Linked DNA regions of Homo sapiens: region 2 is linked to region 1. Evidence: fine-mapped expression QTL. Tissue or cell type: whole blood. Region 1 holds a variant in brackets; the other region holds the start of a gene. All regions are shown on one strand. Distances are from middle to middle.

What was found. PIP is the estimated chance that this variant, and not a neighbour inherited with it, causes the effect. A credible set is the group of variants that fine-mapping cannot tell apart.
Region 2: it holds the start of SNHG28, and the variant in region 1 is the best candidate, but not a certain one, in a credible set for the expression of SNHG28 in whole blood (TOPMed, PIP 0.81).

The regions. Positions count from the first base shown.
Region 1 is chr1:159,829,498-159,838,390 of GRCh38, reverse strand. SLAMF8 (SLAM family member 8) reads right to left here. Exons shown (of 5, transcript NM_020125.3): 2 at 8,199-8,525; 3 at 5,210-5,515; 4 at 5,022-5,129; 5 at 899-3,207. The coding sequence ends at 3,131. It overlaps SNHG28 (small nucleolar RNA host gene 28), which reads left to right. Exons shown (of 5, transcript NR_147125.1): 4 at 364-474; 5 at 2,236-3,913. Among named protein-coding and RNA genes, the nearest start is that of SLAMF8, 7.1 kb to the right of the region's middle. The variant A/G (reference allele first, on the strand shown) is at 3,528.
Region 2 is chr1:159,849,445-159,859,645 of GRCh38, reverse strand. It overlaps SNHG28 (small nucleolar RNA host gene 28), which reads left to right and starts at 4,609. Exons shown (of 5, transcript NR_147125.1): 1 at 4,609-4,889. VSIG8 (V-set and immunoglobulin domain containing 8) reads left to right here. Exons shown (of 7, transcript NM_001013661.1): 2 at 734-912; 3 at 1,355-1,556; 4 at 1,680-1,901; 5 at 3,003-3,122; 6 at 3,565-3,763; 7 at 4,620-5,330. The coding sequence ends at 4,893. It overlaps LOC124900450 (small nucleolar RNA SNORD64), which reads left to right and starts at 7,674; the gene lies at 7,674-7,740. LOC107985216 (a long non-coding RNA gene) reads right to left here and starts at 4,799. Exons shown (of 2, transcript XR_001738263.2): 1 at 4,678-4,799. RefSeq lists a silencer at 4,587-4,996.

The DNA of each region.
Region 1 (8,893 bases):
GGAGATGATGCTTCCTCTGAAGATCAGTAAGTAACCAAGAGTGATTAACTGAACAGGTGCTAGTTCTTAATACACATGGAAGAAAGATTTGCTACAGGTGTCATTAATGTTTGCAGCAGTTTTTTTTTTTTTTTTTAATTGAGACGGAGTCTCACTCTGTTGCCCGGGCTGAAGTGCAGTGGCACAATCTCAGCTCATGCAGCAGTTTTTTTAAAAATGAGGCACTGAATGTTCATGTCTCCATTGATGAGAAAAATGTCCTCTCTAACCCTTTTCTTATGCTATTCCCCTTTCCTATTCTCTCTGATATCATGTTTCATGAGCCCTTTGCCCTAGCAGCTCTTGTATTTGTCTTTTGTACAGGAGAACAGATGCAAAAACTATTGCTCAAGGAAAATAAAGTGAAAACGAGGAAAAGCAAAAGAAGATCTGGAGAGGGCTCTCACCTGACCACAAGCATCCTGGAGCAATGAGGTAGAGGGTGTTCTGGGAGGAGTCTGATATCTGGACTCTCGAGGGGTTCTTTCTGTCATTGTAACTCCAACAAAGGGGCATTCCGACGAAGTCCCATATGATGTGGCCCCAGGCCATCTCTCTGTACTCTTGTCCTTCCCCTCTCTCTCCCTTGTTTGGATCCAGCCCCTCTGGCCTCCACTCTCTTCTTTGCAAACACCAACCATGCTGCCATTTTAGGGCCGTTGCATTTTCTGGTCTCTTTGTCTGGAACACTCTGTCACTGCATGCTCACTCCTCCACTTCACTGGGCCTCTGTTCAAATGTCACCCCATTGAGGGTGTCATCTGATTGCTTTATCTAAGACAGACCCTGTCTCCCCAACAGATTGTTCTCTAGCCCTTTACTCTGCCTTGTCTTTAACAGAAACTAACAACATCTGACATATGCTTACTTGTTTATTTATATTATCCAGACCATAAACTCTCAAAGGCAAGGGTTTCGCTTGACTACTGATTCCCAAGTGCCAAGAAATGTACCCAGCACATGCAGCGCCCTCAATCAATATTTGTTGTGGTGTGACTTACAAAGCATCAGTCTCAATGCTCATTAGCACAAAATTGGTCTCACAGAAGCACTTTGTGTTTTTTTGGTGGAGGGTTAATTAGTCCACTAGTTGACAAGTGAGTCATTAAGGATGGGAACTTTATTAGAGCAGTGTGGATCTGTTCAACAAGGCCCTGGTGCACCACGCTACAAACCACTGTCGAAATGAGGTTGCTAAGAGTCACCTTGTGGAGGGAGAGCTGCAGGTCCCATCTCATCCAGAGCTGCTTTGATCTGAGGTGGGGCCCTGGAGATGAACGAAAGAAAGGTGGGGAGTGCTGTGTATTTTTTCCCCACAAATCCACCAGGGCTCATTGTCAGATCCTGGGCTTTCCTTTCCACATCATTTTTAGGGACTGAGGCCAGTTTTGCATGATTCAGTGACCAGGCATGTGGCCTGACTGTAGGTGGCAGGTGGGGATGGTGCAAGCTGACAGGTTGAGTGGCCATGGACCCTGTTCAGGTAATCTTGGGGGAAGGTGATAGGAGAGAAGTGGGTGTGGGAAAGGGATGAGAATTTGATAAAGCCAGGTTACCAACAGGGAACCTCTGAGCAGGCCAGGCAGGGAGGATCTGGGAACAATCGAGTGGAAGAGTGGTGATGTGGATCTGGAGGCCAGCTGTGCTGATCCTTTGTCCAAGGTGAAGTGATTGCCCAGGAACTGGGGAGAAGAGGGAAGGTCCTTGGACAGGGCTGACATCCTAGGTGGGGAGATTGAAGCCACCCTGGGAAAATAGTACTTCAAACCCACCCCTGTTTCTTCAATACCTCTTTCCTCGCTGTTATCAAGACTGGATTGAGGCCCCAGAAAAAATCCAGTTACACCTGGGTGAGAGAAACTGTGAACCTTATCAGCTAATAATCCCCGAAGGTAAGTTTAGCTCCTTAAGTGTTTTTCCAGTAGTGATCAATACTCCAGAGCTTTTCTAGACAGAATCATTCAGGGGCAGAATGTATTTTCCTAAGATGGCCACAATAAAAAGTTTGATGGAGTCAGAGTGACCTCTACAGTCCTGCTGTTGGGCTGTGGGGTCTTTGTCCCCTCCCCTTGAACTAAGGTAAGTCTTCTGCATTTGCATTTGAAAATGAATGTGGCAGATTCTAGAGTGCCTCAGTACCCTTTCTCTCCATAATGTTCCTTCTGCATAGCGTTTTATGGTTCTTCACTCTCTCAGTTTCAGGCAGGAAGACTCATCCTGAGCTGAGCTGCTTTTCTTGAAGTTGTGCAAGAACGTCCTGTTGGCTGGGGCAAATTCAGTATTTCTTTTCCTGGCCACTGTGCTGGAGCGTGAGGAAAGACTCTCCACCCTCACTCCCAGATCCTGCAGGAGGCGTGAGAGCGGATGGAGATGGTGAGGATGTCTATTAATATGGTGTTTCCTGCAAAACGGTGCCCATCTCAACCATGGGTTGTCAACCATCCTCGGTGTCTACAACTGCAATTTACCTTTGAGGGCCCATGAACTCTGATTACCTGAAAGTCCTTAGGCCAGAAAGAGAAACCCCTGTCCCCCACCTCTCACTTTCACCTATTTCTAGACCTTTTCTTACAGCAATGCCTTGGCCCTCAGGAAGCATCAGATCTCAAACTGCAGGGTCTGGGGCTGAAGCTGATGCTGGCATGGGTGACTCAGAGTTCCTCTATTAGTTCAAATATGTAATATCTTTTAGAGCCTAGGACTCAGGCTGGAGGCAATTCCTTGGTGCCAGTTGGTTAATACTTTATGAATAGTGGTGGGGGAGGGAATGCCTTGGACTATTAATGTCCCCATGGATCTGGATCCTGGAGAACTTCCAGTGTCCTGGATGGAATGTTCTGCTTGGCTCATCTTGCCCAGAGAAGAGCCAGGATATGAGAAGATGGGAGAGGGAAGGGGGAGGTGTGAAACGTGCTGGTGCTTCCTGTCCTCGTGGTGTGATGGCTGCCCAGGCTGCTCCTTCGAGGCAGGACAGGATTCCCATGGGAGATATGAGGACCATGGTGATTTCCAGGCACCAGTTATGTCCCAGAGCATCGTGTGCCTGTGCAGTGGGGTTACTGATAGTCCAGGCATCAGTTCATATTGTCCTTTATGGCAGATCCTGCACAAGGGGGTTCTCTGTCTCTGGACCCACTCTGTCAGCATGGACATCCTTTTTCTTTTTCCCTGGTAAGGACATCAGAAAGAAAGTTACCCCTCCAGTGTTTGGAGTCTTGGAATCCTTGGCCTGCCTGCAGGCCTCTGAATCCTCAGTGTGTTAGCCCAAGGTCACCTTAGGTAAAGGAACATTTCTCCTGGTCTTCCAACACCCTGGAAAGGGAGGCTCTTCAAGAATAGGAAATTCTTCCTAGTATCTAACCTTGGCCTGCAACTATGCCATACATTTAATTGTAGAAGGTATGGAAAGTTAGGACTGTGGTGGACCCAGTTAAATCACTGGACAGAAGCCATGAGGCAGAGCCAGAACCAGCTTCTGGACTCCCTGC[A/G]TGGAGCTTTCTACTATCCCAGGTTGTTGGGTCCCTTCTCAGTGGCCAAAGATGCTATTTTATGAGCCTTGAGGACATGACACTAAGTGAAAAAAGCCTGGCCAAAGGGCCACATAGTGTATAGTTCTATTTATATGAAATGTCCAGGAAAGACAAAAGCATAGAGGCAGAAAGCAGACTAGTGCTGTGGGAGGAATGGGGGATTTGGGAGGTGATGGCTAAGGGGTTATGGGGTTTTGGGGGAGGTAATAGAAATGTTTTAAAATTGGTTGTGAAGGTGGATGCCCAACTCTGCGAATACACTAAAAGGCATCGAATTGTATACTTTAAATAGGTGAATTGTATGCTATGTGAATTATATCTCAATAAAGGTATTTTTTCCCTGCTGTTTTCCTGGCTTCCACTTTCTTATCACAAATCCTGGGGACTCTTGGGGCAGGGGCCAGGGGCCAGGGGCCAGGGCAATACCCTCCCACAGCAGATGGGGCCTTCAGGTGGAGTGCAGGCTCAGCTGTTCCCTCTTGCCCTTCTCTCTGCTGGAGAGAATGAACAGGAATCAGCATTGCCTGTCCCCATGCTTAGAGGCTGGACCCAGACCCTGCCTTCTGGGACACACCCACCATAGTGAGGGCTCAGTGACTCCTCCTTGCTGACTCCCTTTCTCCACCTTGGGACAAGCCAGCTCCGACAGCCTGGCATGGAAATGACCACGGAGCCCTGGTCAGTCGGGTAGTTCTTTCAGGGGCAGGGCATCCTGCGGCAGAGGAAGGGACTGAGCTGTATGTAGAGCTTAGAACCAGGTCTGATCTTGGAGTTTCCCCTTCCTTCCTCTTCTCAAGAAGGCAACCCTATCAGCCACTGGCCAGGGAGTAGCTTATCTTAGGGAGCCATTTTGTAGAAATCTCAGGCAAGAAGGGGTTCGGAGTCATTTAGACTCCCACTCAACAATGTTTGTCGATACCAGCTATGTTTCAGGAAGAGTTGTGTTCTGGGAACCACTGACATGCCCAGTGTTGACCCAGCATCCTCCTTTTAAGGGCTCAGAATTCAGTGGGGAAGTAAATGTAAGTAGTTCTCTGATTGGGGTAAGCAATGGAGATTGAAGAAAGGATGTTAATCAGCCTGAGTATTGGGGCAATCAGGGAAGGCTTTCTGGAGCAAGCACACCTTGAAGACTGAGTATGAGATAGCCACATGAAGGGGGGAGGCTGGGTGGGAAATCATGGAAAGTGTGTTCCAGGCAGAGGGAATACAATGTACAAAGGTCTGCAGATGGATGTGAGAGAACAGTTCATTTGGAGAACCACATAAGAGACTTCAAGTAGTTGAGTCTGGTTGTAAACCAAGATATGAGCTAGAGAAGGCCAAGAGATGAGGTGGGAGAGGTAGGAAGGGGCAGACCATCTGAAGCCTAAATAGGAGGAGGTCCAAGACCCCCTCCTCCCCAGGAACTCCACTTCCTCCACCTACCTCCTGCACCTGCAGGACTCCTACCTGAGCAGGGGCACCAGTGCCAGGCAGAGAAGAGAGTAACCAGCATCAGGAGCAGCGAGACAGGCACCACCACCAGCAGCACATCTTTGTAGGAGGCCTTCCCTGGTGCTGAACATGGAGGGGTGGGGTTAGAGGTGGACTTGATGCTTCATAAGCCCTCAACCACTGACTGCTGGCCCTTAGCATACCTGCCTCATGATGACAGCTATCCCAGGGCGTGACTGTGGCCAAGTCCCAGCTGACAGGGTTGGAGACAATGCAGGAATAGGCCACATCTCTGTCTCCTGGTCCCAGGGAAATGCTCAGCACCTGTCCGTCTGTGAAGAGGCTGTGTGGTTCCATACCAAAGTCCATGGTTGTCTCCCGTCGCCAGCTATAGGTTATTTCGCTGATGTTGGGGGCCCAACAGGACAAGAAAACCTGGCAGGTCTTGGAGGGCTGAGCATCCCTTTCTACAGCAATGAACACTTGTACCACGGGCCTGGGCACTGCATCTGGGAAAGAAAAGTACAGCTGGTATGGGTCTCAGGGATGCTGGGCAGGGCCCACATCTCTGGCTCTGGGATCTACCCAGGGTTAGATGCCACCTCTGGCTAGGCCTCTCTTGTTCCAAAATCTTGTCTGGCTTTCCACTGCCCACAGGACAGAAGCTGAATTCCTTAGCTTGATATTCAAAACCTTTCAGGAAACGATTCATGCCCATCTCTCCAGCTGTACCTCCTGCTGCTTCTCCCTGCTCATCCTAATTAATTTGCAGTTTTCCCAAACATGTCATGCTCTTGAATATCTTTCATGCTTTCACATAATTCATCTGCGCACACAGATGCCTTTCCCTTCTTGTCCTCCTAGAAAACTTCTACCCATCCTTCAAGGCCCAGCTTGAACACATTGCTTAATGCCTTGACTGTGAAGCCTTCCCAGGCATGGCTCTGAGCTCTCCAAGCACTCTATCTCTTTTTGTAGTATTTCTCTCACAATATGTCAGTCAGTCAACAAGAGATGACAAGCATTTATTAAGTCAGGCAAGAAAACAAACACATTCCTAGCCTTCTGGAGCTTACAGTTTGGTGAGAAAGACAAATACAAAATGATTATGAATAATTAATTAAATAATTATGAGGGTGCAAAATGCTGTGAAGGAGGGGCCCAGAGGTGGGGGCTCTGTCTTGTTAGCTTAGTAAACTTAGCTCTGTAGTGCTGGCAAATAGTGGGTGCTCGATATCTGGTCACTGAACAAACTGATATCCTGGTGTCCTAGCCATGGATTCCCCTTTCTATACAGGTTGATGAGTAAATCCTGAGTCTCAGTGGAAATGAGGCCAGTGGGAGAGCATTCTGGTGACAACAGGAGGGCTCAGTCTCTGACAGCATTCCAAAGTCAAGCAGAGAAAAACCTCGTTAATGCCAGTTCAGTCTGGTGGGATTTGTGATATGAAAGAGAAATGATTTGCTGGGCACACTAATAGTATAAACAAAGATTACAGGGGGGATATTTACATCACTTAAGAGGACAAGCTGCTTCCAAACACGATCAAGCACAGTAGAAACACCCATTGACATTTCTAGTAACTGATCTGCTAATTCAAATCGTTCTTATCTATTGTCAAAGCAGAACTCCTAAGGACGGCTGCTTGGCAGCTTCGTGCAATTAGTTCTAATCACGCTATGTATTTGGAAGCAATAAAACAGCAATTTCCTTAAAATCTGTAATTCAGCTGCTGAGAACAAGGCATTTTAGAGCTTAGTGGTGTGGGTGCTGCATGTATTATCACATTCAATGTCCTCATTTCACATGTGCGGCAGCTGAGACTCAGATCAGAGGAGGGGCTCCAGGGCTGCCTGTATGGTGGGGTAGGTTATTCACTACACAAGGACATTGGGCTAAGGGGGGTCACAGGGTAACAGGTGGCAGGGGGTGGGGGGTGCTGAAATCCAGCCAGCACTCTGCTTGCCAAGATGAGGCTCAGGGCTGCGTGCATCCAGAAAGGCACCTTGCAATTGCATCGGCACCCTGAGTGGCTCGCCCAAGGACAGCCAGTTAGCTGTCTCGGGGGGATTCAAGACATCTCCCCAATTTGCTTACAATCTTTATCTCCCTCATGGCTACCCTCTTCCCAGCTGCTACCTCTGCTTTCCATTCTTAAATCTGGACTCCCCTCTCTTCCACTCTATCTAAATTTCTAAGGTTTTACTGAAACAGTGATTTAGGGTCACCCATGCCTCTTTTCTAGCCCATTAGGTAGATAAATGAGAGCTGAAAGCCACTCTTTCTTGACCAGAAGACAAATGATGAAGGTGGTGGAGGTGGCTGTGGTGGAGGTGGAGGTGGAGTTGTTGGGAAACAAGGCCCACGCAGCCCCCAGTCCATGCAGCCAACCGAGGTGCTGAATGTAGCTGCGCGAATGGCTCTGCAGACCCATGCGAAGCAGAAGTCGCACCCAGCTGGGCCTGCCAACCCACGGAATTATGAGAAGTAAACATCGTTGTTGTTTTCAGTCAGTAAGTTTTGGGATGGTTTGTTTTGCAATGATGAATGACTGAGAGAACCCATGAATCATATATAGTTAAGATCTCTCTAAGAAGCCCTTTTAAGAAATGTGTAAATTCTATACTTTTAATTACAGTTTCATTATAATTTGATTTTTAAATAAACCCATTATGTCATAGTTTAGTATGGTACATCATTTTTTTTCCTTTAGACTAATGACACATAGTCTACACAGACTACATAGACTACATAGACTAGTGGCACATCTTATAGTCTATGATGATCCTTTAGAACTGAGGAAGCACAGGCCAGGCTCTGTCCTGGATGCCACTGCAAATGCCACTGCATTTCATCCTGTGGGTACTCTACATGGTAATATTACAATGCCCATTTACAAAGGAGAAAGGTGAAGGCCAGGGAGGCTAAGCATTGTGTCCAAGGCCACTGAGCCAAGAAAAGACTGAGCTAGAGTTCAGGCAAGCACTGTGAAATGGCAAAGCCTGGCTGCTGCAGCCAGGAGGAATTTTCTTAGACGTGACTGCCAGGGAGCAGCTGTTCCCTGAGTCGGCAACATGGTCAGAGACCAGAGCTTTCTGGAACCCAGCTCTCCCTGGCTGCTATGACTCAGGATGCTCGTCTGGTGCTTTGTGGGGGAAGAGGGCCAGGCAGCCAGTGTCAGACACACTCACCGTACACCTTGAGCTGGAGGGTCTGGGTCCAGGGCTGGCCCCTTGTGTCCACCATCAACACGGAGAAGTTGCCGCTGTCTCCAGACTCCAGCGGCCCGAGCTCCAGGCTGAGGTTGCTGTGTAGCTGGGCTCGGCCCAGGAAGCGGGAATGGTACAGAGTCTCCAGGGAGCCTCGGAAAAACGTGGCCAGGAGCTCTTCTGAAGGCCAGAGAGATCGCCAGATAGCCTCACGGACTTGGAAGCCAGGGGGACGCGCTGCCACCAGCAGCACCGAGCCCCCGACTTTGCTCAGCACTTGGGCACCAGTAACTGTAATGGGAAGTAGGGCTGAAAGAACAGAGCCCCTGGTCACTCTGCCTGCCCCACACTCCTCATCCTTCTTTGCATGCATCTGAGCTGCTATAGGGTGAATTGGGGCCCCTCCACTGACATTCCCTCCACTCAAGTTGAGGTTGCACTGTGCTAGGTACCAGGGATAAAACATATGGAAGATAACCCCAGTCTCTGCATTCATGGAACTTACAGAGGAAGCCAGACATTCAAGAAATCAATAAAAATGAATTCTGTTAAATACCATGAAGGGAAAAATGAGATGCCCTGGGAGAACACAGGTAGGGTGACAGGGGATCTCACCCAGCCTTGATGGGCTCAGAAAACAAATTGTTAAGCTGAGCCTTGAAGAGGAATGGGAATCA
Region 2 (10,201 bases), 21 kb before region 1:
CAGGCTCCTGGTCACAGCTGTCCACTGTCATGCACAAGCACACACTGTCACTTTTAAGCACTTACATAGCTCACATGGTCACACATCACTATACAAAACCACACAGAGGCATACAGCCACAGACTCACACTGTCATACACAGACACACATAGACACACTTAGTCTTTGGCTTCTCAGGCTGGAGAGGAGTCCCAGAAGCCATTGTAACCACCCCGCTGCCTCTGGACAGGAGGACTTCACTCAGCCCAGACAGAGCCCACATAGGTGACATTTAATCAGCCAGGCTCTTCTATCAGAGCATTTAACAACTCTGTGTGTACCACATGCCTTCACACACACAAACACATCCACACTATCATATAAATATATAAGCAGACACGCTACGTGGTCATGTACATGAATATCCTCACAGTACACATAAGCAGCCACAAATACTCATAAGCATACAATGTACATACGTGTACATATTCATACATGCATACACATAATCATATATACATACAAGCATACATAACAGCTACATATATAACAGCTATATGTATAGCTGTTATATGCCTGTGACAATTCATGCACACACACATACACACCCACTACGAGCAGCCCTCCTTTTTATGAAAGCACTGCTGACCTCTGGGTGCCGTGGACAGAGAATATGAAGGGAAGGGCTGACACTGACTCCTCCTGAAGCCCTGCTTCTGCTCCTACCACCCCATCTTCTCTGCCCTCCCCCTAGCACTGCTGTCTGCTGTGCGGATCAACGGGGATGGACAGGAGGTCCTGTACCTGGCAGAAGGTGATAATGTGAGGCTGGGCTGCCCCTACGTCCTGGACCCTGAGGACTATGGTCCCAATGGGCTGGACATCGAGTGGATGCAGGTCAACTCAGACCCCGCCCACCACCGAGAGAACGTGGTGAGTGCTGGGCACAGGGGTCTCCTTCCTCTAGGCTTCATGATGTCTACCTGTTGGACAGCCAACATCCCAAAGGGAGAAGACTGACCTTGAACCTCCCCCAAGGCCTTTCAGGGAATGAGGCAATGGGGATGAGAGCTCTGCAATTGTGAATTAAGCTAGCCAGTCAGTCTACCTCCTCCCATCCCATTCTAAAAGGAAGATAAGTTGTAGTCTTTGCCTTCAAAAAGTTCCCAGTCTGACCATATATCTTTCCAAGTGCTTGATCTCACCTGATCTCACCAGTTCTGTAAGAGGTCAGTGGCTCAGGCATCATTATTCTCATTTTTTCAGCTGAGAAAAGAGTCTCAGAGAAGTTCAGTGAATTGCCCAAAGCAGCCAATCCACATGGCCCTTCTTGGCTCTGCCTGTTTCACCACCTGTTTTCCTCTCCTCTTCACAGTTCCTTAGTTACCAGGACAAGAGGATCAACCATGGCAGCCTTCCCCATCTGCAGCAGAGGGTCCGCTTTGCAGCCTCAGACCCAAGCCAGTACGATGCCTCCATCAACCTCATGAACCTGCAGGTATCTGATACAGCCACTTATGAGTGCCGGGTGAAGAAGACCACCATGGCCACCCGGAAGGTCATTGTCACTGTCCAAGGTATGGCCAGACTCCTCTAAGCTCCTCTCCCCCTGGCTTAAGAGCCAAGGGCAGCTTGGCCACTTTGAGCCTGGCTCTGTCTCTTGGCTGGGCCCTGGCTTACAATTGTCTGCCTCCTTGCAGCACGACCTGCAGTGCCCATGTGCTGGACAGAGGGCCACATGACATATGGCAACGATGTGGTGCTGAAGTGCTATGCCAGTGGGGGCTCCCAGCCCCTCTCCTACAAGTGGGCCAAGATCAGTGGGCACCATTACCCCTATCGAGCTGGGTCTTACACCTCCCAGCACAGCTACCACTCAGAGCTGTCCTACCAGGAGTCCTTCCACAGCTCCATAAACCAAGGTGAGAGGGCCCTGGATGAGGGCAGTCGGGGGTGAGTGGAAGATCAGGGACTCTGGGACCTGTTGGGGTTTCCTTGGGTTATCAGTGCCATCAAATCAAACCTGGAATCCCTGTGGGAGACCCTCCCTCTGGGCCTGCCCCAGCAGCTGCTATTTTTTTTTTTTTTTTTGAGACAGAGTTTCGCTCTTGTTGCCCAAGCTGGAGGGCAATGGCATGATCTCGGCTCACTGCAACCTCTGCCTCCCGGGTTCAAGCGATTCTCCTGCCTCTGCCTCCCGAGTAGCTGGGATTACAGGCATGCACCACCGCACCTGGCTAATTTTTTGTATTTTTAGTAGAAACGGGGTTTTACCATGTTAGCCAGGCTGGTCTCAAACTCCTGACCTCAGGCGATCCGCCCGCCTTGGCCTCCCAAAGCGCTAGGATTACAGGCGTGAGCCACCGTGCCTGGCCCAGCAGCTGCTATTGAGAGCAGATGATAAGGCAAATGTGGAGAGTCAGTCAAAAGTACTATGGCGAATTTGGAGGGAGCCTGGTCTCAGACAGAGCTGGGCTTGAATCCTGGCTGGGACACTGACTGGCTCCAAGTTTAAGGCAAGTGGCTTACCCTCCCTGTGCCTTAATTTCTTCATATATGGAAAGGGAATACTAACATATACCTTTCATGGGCATGCAAGGATTAAATGGGGGAGGTGTGTAAAGCTCCTAGTACATAGAGAAGCTGAAAATATTCAGTCAAACAAAGAATAATAGAGCTAGGAGGGACCTTAGAGTTCCTCTTCCCCTGGCTTCTCCTGTCCTCACTGTACAAAGGAGGAGACCAAGGCTCAGAGAGCGTACATATTTCCCTAAGGTCAGAGTGAATTAATGGTGTCCCTGTCTTGCTGCTGGGAGAGAGGTCCTTTCTTGCATCTCTTTCACAGCAGGGGGAAGGTGACTCACCTGGAGAGTGGAGTGTGTGTGTGTGTGTGTGGGTGTGGGTGTACACACATGCATAAGCCTTCCCTTCTTCTAGAGTGGGTGTCCCATCCCCCACCCCACAGGGACTGAGGTTGGGGTGGGAGCTCTCAGAGACCAGGCCTCTCTCCACTTCACTTTCAGGCCTGAACAATGGGGACCTGGTGTTGAAGGATATCTCCAGAGCAGATGATGGGCTGTATCAGTGCACAGTGGCCAACAACGTGGGCTACAGTGTTTGTGTGGTGGAGGTGAAGGTCTCAGGTAGGTGCAGCAGTCTTGAGGGCTGGGTGGTTGGGAGGGTTGAACTGGAGGAGGCTGGGCTCTGGTTTGGAGCCTCAGCTGCTTCTGCCTTTCCACTGCCATCCATTTGCCAGTGGGGGCTCCCAGCCCCTTTCCTACAAGTGGGCCAAGATCAGTGGGTACGATCTTGACCCTATTGAGCTGGGTCAAGCTCGCCCAGCACAGCTTCCACTCTGAGCTCTAGAGCCCAGAGCAGCTGGAAGCCCTGGGAGAAGCATGCTGACACGAGGGGTTAACTTGCATCTCCCCATATCTTCCCCACTGGGTGTTCCAGGGCTAAGAGACCCCCTGGGTCCCTCTCCCTCTTTCCCATTAACCCCTGACCTGGCACCTCCTGGTGCTGTTCCCTCAGGCACCTGCCAGGCTGTGAGAAAGCCTGACCTGCCTCCACTTCTCTCCACAGACTCCCGGCGTATAGGCGTGATCATCGGCATCGTCCTGGGCTCTCTGCTCGCGCTGGGCTGCCTGGCCGTAGGCATCTGGGGGCTCGTCTGCTGCTGCTGCGGGGGCTCCGGGGCTGGCGGCGCCCGCGGTGCCTTCGGCTACGGCAACGGCGGCGGGGTCGGCGGAGGGGCCTGCGGCGACTTGGCTAGTGAGATCAGGTAAAACCTGATGCATGCTGCATGCTGCTGTGCGGCAGGGAACCGGCGCCCTGCCCACCTCACTCCTGCCTGCCACCGGCCGGCTGGGCCCCCCACCCCAACCCTGCCCGCCATCGCCACGGAGTGCTGGGACTGCGGCATGTCGACCTGCCACCCAACTCATGGCTTTCCCCTCCCCCTGCCACCCCAGTCTTCACCTCTGCTCCCTGCCTTCCATTTCCCTCCTGCCTACGCACCTGTCTGTCTTGTCTAGACTGTAAGCTCCTGGAGGGCAGGGCCTATGTTTTTTCACGTTTCCCCTGTACTGCGCCGGTAAGAACTCTGACATTATTATTTAAGAAGAGCTAATAATAAGAATAGTGCTAATAACTTATATTAGAAGCAAACTAGAAATAAAAATAGAACAAGTCTAGTAGTGCTAATGATTGCAATGCCTCGGGGATGGAGGGAAAGATGGAGAAGACTGAGGGGCAGGAGGTGAGAAAGAGAGAGATTGCTCGAGCAAGGTCAGGATTAGCTAAGGAAAGAAGAAGAGGAAAAGCACCTTCTTCTGGGCCTGCGAAACATCAGAAAGGGATTGCAGGGGCCTGGAGGGGGCTGCCTGCAGGGCTCTCCAGATACGCGTGGACAAGCCCTGTCTGGAGGATGGGGATGCTGGCTCCGGGACCGCTGCAGGGTCGCCGACCCAGGAAGGGTCACAAAGGACAGTAGGTCGAGGCCGAGGGAGAGAGACGAGGGCAGGTGGAGGGAGGCGCGGGAGACAAGAGGTTGCCAAGAGCCCCCGGCTCTGCCCAGGCCGTGCCCACGCCCCGCTGCGGAGCAGCCCGCTCACCCGCCCGCCTGTTGTTTTCCACAGAGAGGACGCCGTGGCGCCCGGGTGCAAGGCCAGCGGGCGCGGCAGCCGCGTCACCCACCTCCTGGGGTACCCGACGCAGAACGTCAGCCGCTCCCTGCGCCGCAAGTACGCGCCTCCCCCCTGCGGCGGCCCCGAGGACGTGGCCCTGGCGCCCTGCACCGCCGCCGCCGCCTGCGAAGCGGGCCCCTCCCCGGTCTACGTCAAGGTCAAGAGCGCGGAGCCGGCTGACTGCGCCGAGGGGCCGGTGCAGTGCAAGAACGGCCTCTTGGTGTGAGCGCGCGCGCCGGGCCGGGCTGCGCCCCAGCCAGGAGGAGGGCGCGGGGCTCTCTGTCTGCAGCTGGGGACACGTCGGGGCTGGGGACGACCTCGCTCGCCCCAGGCTGCCAGGCGGCTGGGGGTGAAGGCATTTCCCTAAGGAAATGCGTAGGGAGGCAGAGCCTCCTCCCCAAAAGTGGGAAGGGGCGGGCGAGGGCGGAGGAAGGCGATCCTGAGCCTTCTCCGCACCCCCGGGACCGAAGGCTTGGGGGAGAGGGAGGGAGGAGGAGGCTGAGTGTCCTAGAGCGGCTGAGGCCGGAGGCCTGGTGTCCCCAGCCTAAGCAGAGGGCCCCGGGGGCCGGGTGGGTGGGGGTCTGTCTGGACGAATTGTTCTGTGTGTGAGGTCTGAGCTCTGAGGCAGCAGTGTTAGCACAATAAAGAAACATTGAGACGTGAGTCCGAAGTGGCTGTCCGCGTTCCACGGAGGTTGGGCACGGGGTGGCGAACCCTGCCCAGGGCCGGGGAGGGTTGCTTCTGTCGCTCGCCTCGACCACGCCCCCTCTCCTCCCTCCTGCTTAGATCCCTGGCAGTCAGAGCTGGAAGGGGCCATCCAGGGCAACTCCTCTGAACAACATACAAAGTGCAGATAAAAGGAAAACAAAGACAAAAAGAATTAGCTCAGAATATCTACGACCGTAAAATAAACTGAGGAACCGACAAAGTGCAATACACTTGCCATTTCTAAATATTCAAAGTTTTCACATGTCAAGATTTTCTATTGAGAATAATGTGCTCTGAAGGTCTAGGGAGTCTTTGTATGTTGCTGAAAGCTAAAAGGAAACCAGTCCTTGGAGCACAGAAGGCACAGGCATCCGGTGAGACAGAAACAAGGACATGTGAAAATAAGACTACAACCTCTTATATTAAAAAACTAAGTGCCACAGTTCTAGGGTGCTGGGTGAAGTGCAGGAAGGAGGGGGAATAATATTTATATAGCATATATTATGGAACTCGGAGAGTATGGTAAATCCCTTCACCTAGATGCTGCTGGTGTTTTAGAACAATTATTTTTGTGGTTCTTTTTTTTTTTTCATTTGTCTGCAGTTGGTCAACTTGTGCAGAGCCCATTCTGCAGGAGATGTTTGAGAAATACCAAGTGAATGAGTGTGGCAGCATTACTTTATGCTAGAAAAAAAAAGTTTTTAGATATTTTACAGTTACTGCCTTATGATGGAATATTCTGTGGTGAGAATCTAGGCCTTTCTGAGATCCAGCTCCACGTTCTTACACCCTGAAGTAGTCAGCCACTCCTAGATAGGGATTAATTGAGCTATTTAGTATTTACCAGCACTTGTTTTGTTAAACACCTTGTCATGATATTTACAATGTATTTTGGGGGATGTTTTAGTCATTTTTGGTTCAAAAGTGGAAATCAATAAGCACTGTTTTTGTTAATAGGCGCAAGACGTCCTCTCTTGTTTAGTGAGATGGGGAGTGCTTAATTGAAGAGTAATGTTTGAGATAAAGTTCCAAGGATATATTTGCTAAGCAAACAGTAAGTAAAGTGGGCAGTGTTATAGATGTTCCTTTGTTGATAAAGGGACCAGGTGGTCACACAGCAAGGAGGGGGATGCAGACAAGTAGACAAGCTCTACTAATCCTTCTTTGTTCAACATCATCTCTGTTGGGCATTGGAATCTACTTTGCTAATGCAATGCCCACTTGCCTATAATTTAAGAATTTCTAATATGGAATAGAAATGATTAATAGGAGAAGCTTGGCTGGATTAATTTCCTGTGCTGAGAAAGATTAAACTTAAAAAAAAACAGTTAGGTCCATCCTAAATGCCCAAGATTTAAGAAGGAACCTCATAGTTCAACTGGGTATTTGATGAATGTGAATGATTTTGTATTTGATGAGCTGATGAGGACAGTATAGTGATGCAGAGGGTAGGTGCTTGTACATCTGAATTGTCTGGGCTGTTTCTTATTTTATATGTAATTTATTTGTATTTAAAGAGTTCATTTTATGTTAGATTATTTGTGCTTTGGTAGCAAAAATATATTTGAAAGGGTAAGTTCCTGAAATCAGCAGTTTCATGTCTGCTAGGAGACAAGTATCAGGAAAAGTAGTGTGGGTTCTATCATTTCCATGCTACAACTTGGATGGTGTTACCTTACCACTTTGGTCCCTTGTTTCAGGGATGTTAGAACTTAGCTTAGACCTTCCTCAGAATCCTTTTGGACTTTGTGTTTCATTTGTTTGGCCTGCCTTGATTTTATTTGGTCATCCTTCTTGATTCTTTCATATTATTTGTTTACACTTAACTCTGGAATATTTTGGTGGTTGTTTTCAATGTACTGTAGGTCTTTAAATTGGTTTATAATGAATTATTGAGGAGAATAGCAAGTTGTTGACATTATATCTGTCTGTAGTAACATTAGAATATTTCCATTTCAATTTGTTGGGCAATTTGCTTGTGGAAATATAAGATGTTATATTTAGTTCTATCAAAACCAGGATCTCAATATTATTCTTTTGGCAGGTTGCTGCGTGTGTGTGTGTGTGTGTGTGTGTGTGTATGTGTGTCTGTCTGTCTGTCTGTCTGTCTTTGATTTTTTTCCTTCATATTTTCCCCTTAATTCGGTGTCGGTCAATACTGTTGCTGTTTCACATCCATTGTCACATAAAACTAGTCATCTCATTCTCCCAGGCCCCCTGTCCTTGGGAAGGGATGTGCACTCTGCAGGTATTAGTGATTTTATATAGCTGCATGAGTTGCTGGGAAAGGCCTTGGCTGGATTTATAATGAGCTGTGTTTACTGAGCATTATGAAGTAAAGTTCAATATGATTACTCTGAAGTCTGACCTAAAAAAAATCCTACTCCTTCACTATACAGATAGGGAAACTGAGGCCCCTCAGGCTGGACTTTAAATCCCCAATCTTACTTTTCCATTTTATTCTAGAAGGTCAGTTGAGAGGAAACACGGCTCTGTCATGGATGACCTCTAAATGATCCCTGACCATTCTTAGCATCCTTCTTTCTCTTCCCCTCATTGACCTAATCTTGACTTCTTTTATCTCTTTCAGATGTATGCCTTCTTTCTTAATAGCCAGGAAGTGTTTTAGAGTCATACTCTCTGGTGTAGAAAGACCTTCAAGGCCAACTAACCCAGCTCCCCCTTTTGGTGGGAAGGGGATTGGCATTTATTGAGCACCTATTAAGTGTTAGGTGCTTTTTGATTTTTTGTCTTATTTATTCCTTACTTTAGTCCTATGAGGTTGTGTATTATCCCCATTATACAGATGAATAAACTGAGGCTCAGAGGGATTAGGTATCTTGACCAAGGCAACAAAGATAATAAAGATAATTCAGGATTTGATCTAGGCATGTTTGATTCCAGGACAGCAGGCTGTTTCTCTGGCATTTGAATTCCTTCTATAGCATTCCTGACAAAGGGTATGTAACGTCTTCTTGACAACCTCCAATGGCAGCTCACTACCTTCCGAGGCAGGCCACTTGGCCTCTGACTGTCAATATTCAACAGAACATTTCTCTGAACCCGGTTTTTGTCCCCATATAGCTTTTATCCCTTGATCCAAGTTCTACTCTTAGGGACCCCAGAGCATTGTATTTCTAATTCAGCTGCCTCTAGTGGACAAAGTGGTTGCACTCCATACAGGATGGCTGCAACAGGGACACAACTGGACACTTGTCTGGTCTAGTTGGTAGGAGGTGTTCAGAAGAGCACAGTACTTCAAGGTCACTTCGTTCTACTTTCCTTTCCCCAGCTGCTTGCTTGTTGAGAGCCCAGCCTCTTTCTTCTCTCTTTGTCTCTTTTCTCTTGAGGAGAAGCTAGTCTTCCTCATTTTTCCTGCTCCTATTCTAGGGCCACAGGAGGTGTGGGGTGTGCATGGGCCTCAAAGTGTCTTTAGGAAGCCCCTAAACACTTCTTAGTAACACATAACTAGGAAACCCTCAAGATGACTTGGGTATTTGCAAAGGGGTGATGGCATTGCCAGCTCTGCTTTTATAGAGCGTGCTGAGAGACATGAGAGATAGTAATGAGGCAAAAGGAACCAGAGACCACTGTCTTGGGGGTGGGAAGGTGGGGAGTTCTTGGGAATGGGAAGAGGTATAGGGAAAGGACGTTAAATAAGGAGAAGAGCAGAGAACTCCAGGAACCATCCATCCCTTCATTTATTTGGTCATATTTATGAGCACCTATAAGACGACTTGTCATAGATGAAGAGATCTTCAGCAGGGCACTGTGCCTGGCATATTTTTGCCCTAAGGCAAAATATCCCCTAAGGCAGGGGATGGTATAGGATGACTTGGGGAGGGTGCTCCCTGTCTGAGGAGCCTCCAGCTTAGCTTCCTGAAAGGTGCTGAGGGACAGAGGCAGCCAGTTGGCTGTGCAGGTTGTTGAATGATATAATCTTCCCTATTCCAGGAACAAGGGAGCCATGATCAGACTTGGCCTCTATTTGGGGGGTGGGACCAGTGAGGCTCTGGCAAGAAAGGCTCACTAAAGAGCAGCAAGAGAGATTTTATAGAGACTCTGAGAACAGCTTCCTGTTAGGGTGAGTCAACAGGGAAGGTAGAGATTTCCTAAATCCAATGCTGAGATCACAGTCGTCACTGTACTTACCACCCCAGGAGAACGAGGGAAGGAAGTTTCTGTTTGAACAATTTTGCTTCAGGGATGCCTTGGTGTTTTTTGTTCATTTCTCCTGCATGAAACCTTGTTCAGTGCTGGAGGAGAGCACTTGTGGTGACATATGTTCAACAGTGGCTTTGGGAGTAGGGTGTAGGGTGGGGTAGGGACTGGGAAGCCCTGATTTGTAGCCTTTGCTGATTTCCATGATGTCAATGCTTCCACTATGGCTGAATTCAAGCTACCAACATGATGTGACTGGCATGGAATTGGGAGAAATGTTTAGTAGCACATGATTGTATAGTATTTCCATGATACAGATACAATGGAGGAAGTAAATAACTTTAAGAGCTTAGGTAATAGTGAACTGTAGTAAAGTCATCAGGAAGTGGTGAGTTTTGAGTACTTATCACCTTTGTTTTAATATCATTTAATTATAAATGTATGTAATTTACTTTTTAATAATGGCTGCATTTAACAACTGGCTTGGGAAAGTTAGGTGGACCATGTCACCCCAGGCAAGCAGAACGCTGGGCACACAAGTGTTGCCTCAAGAATGGAAATCTCAAGTACATCTTGATTTTTCTCTATTTTTCTAGAGAGATGCAAACAGCACAAAGTTATGCTACTTCTATTAAATACTACATAAATTGTCTTCATCCTACTTC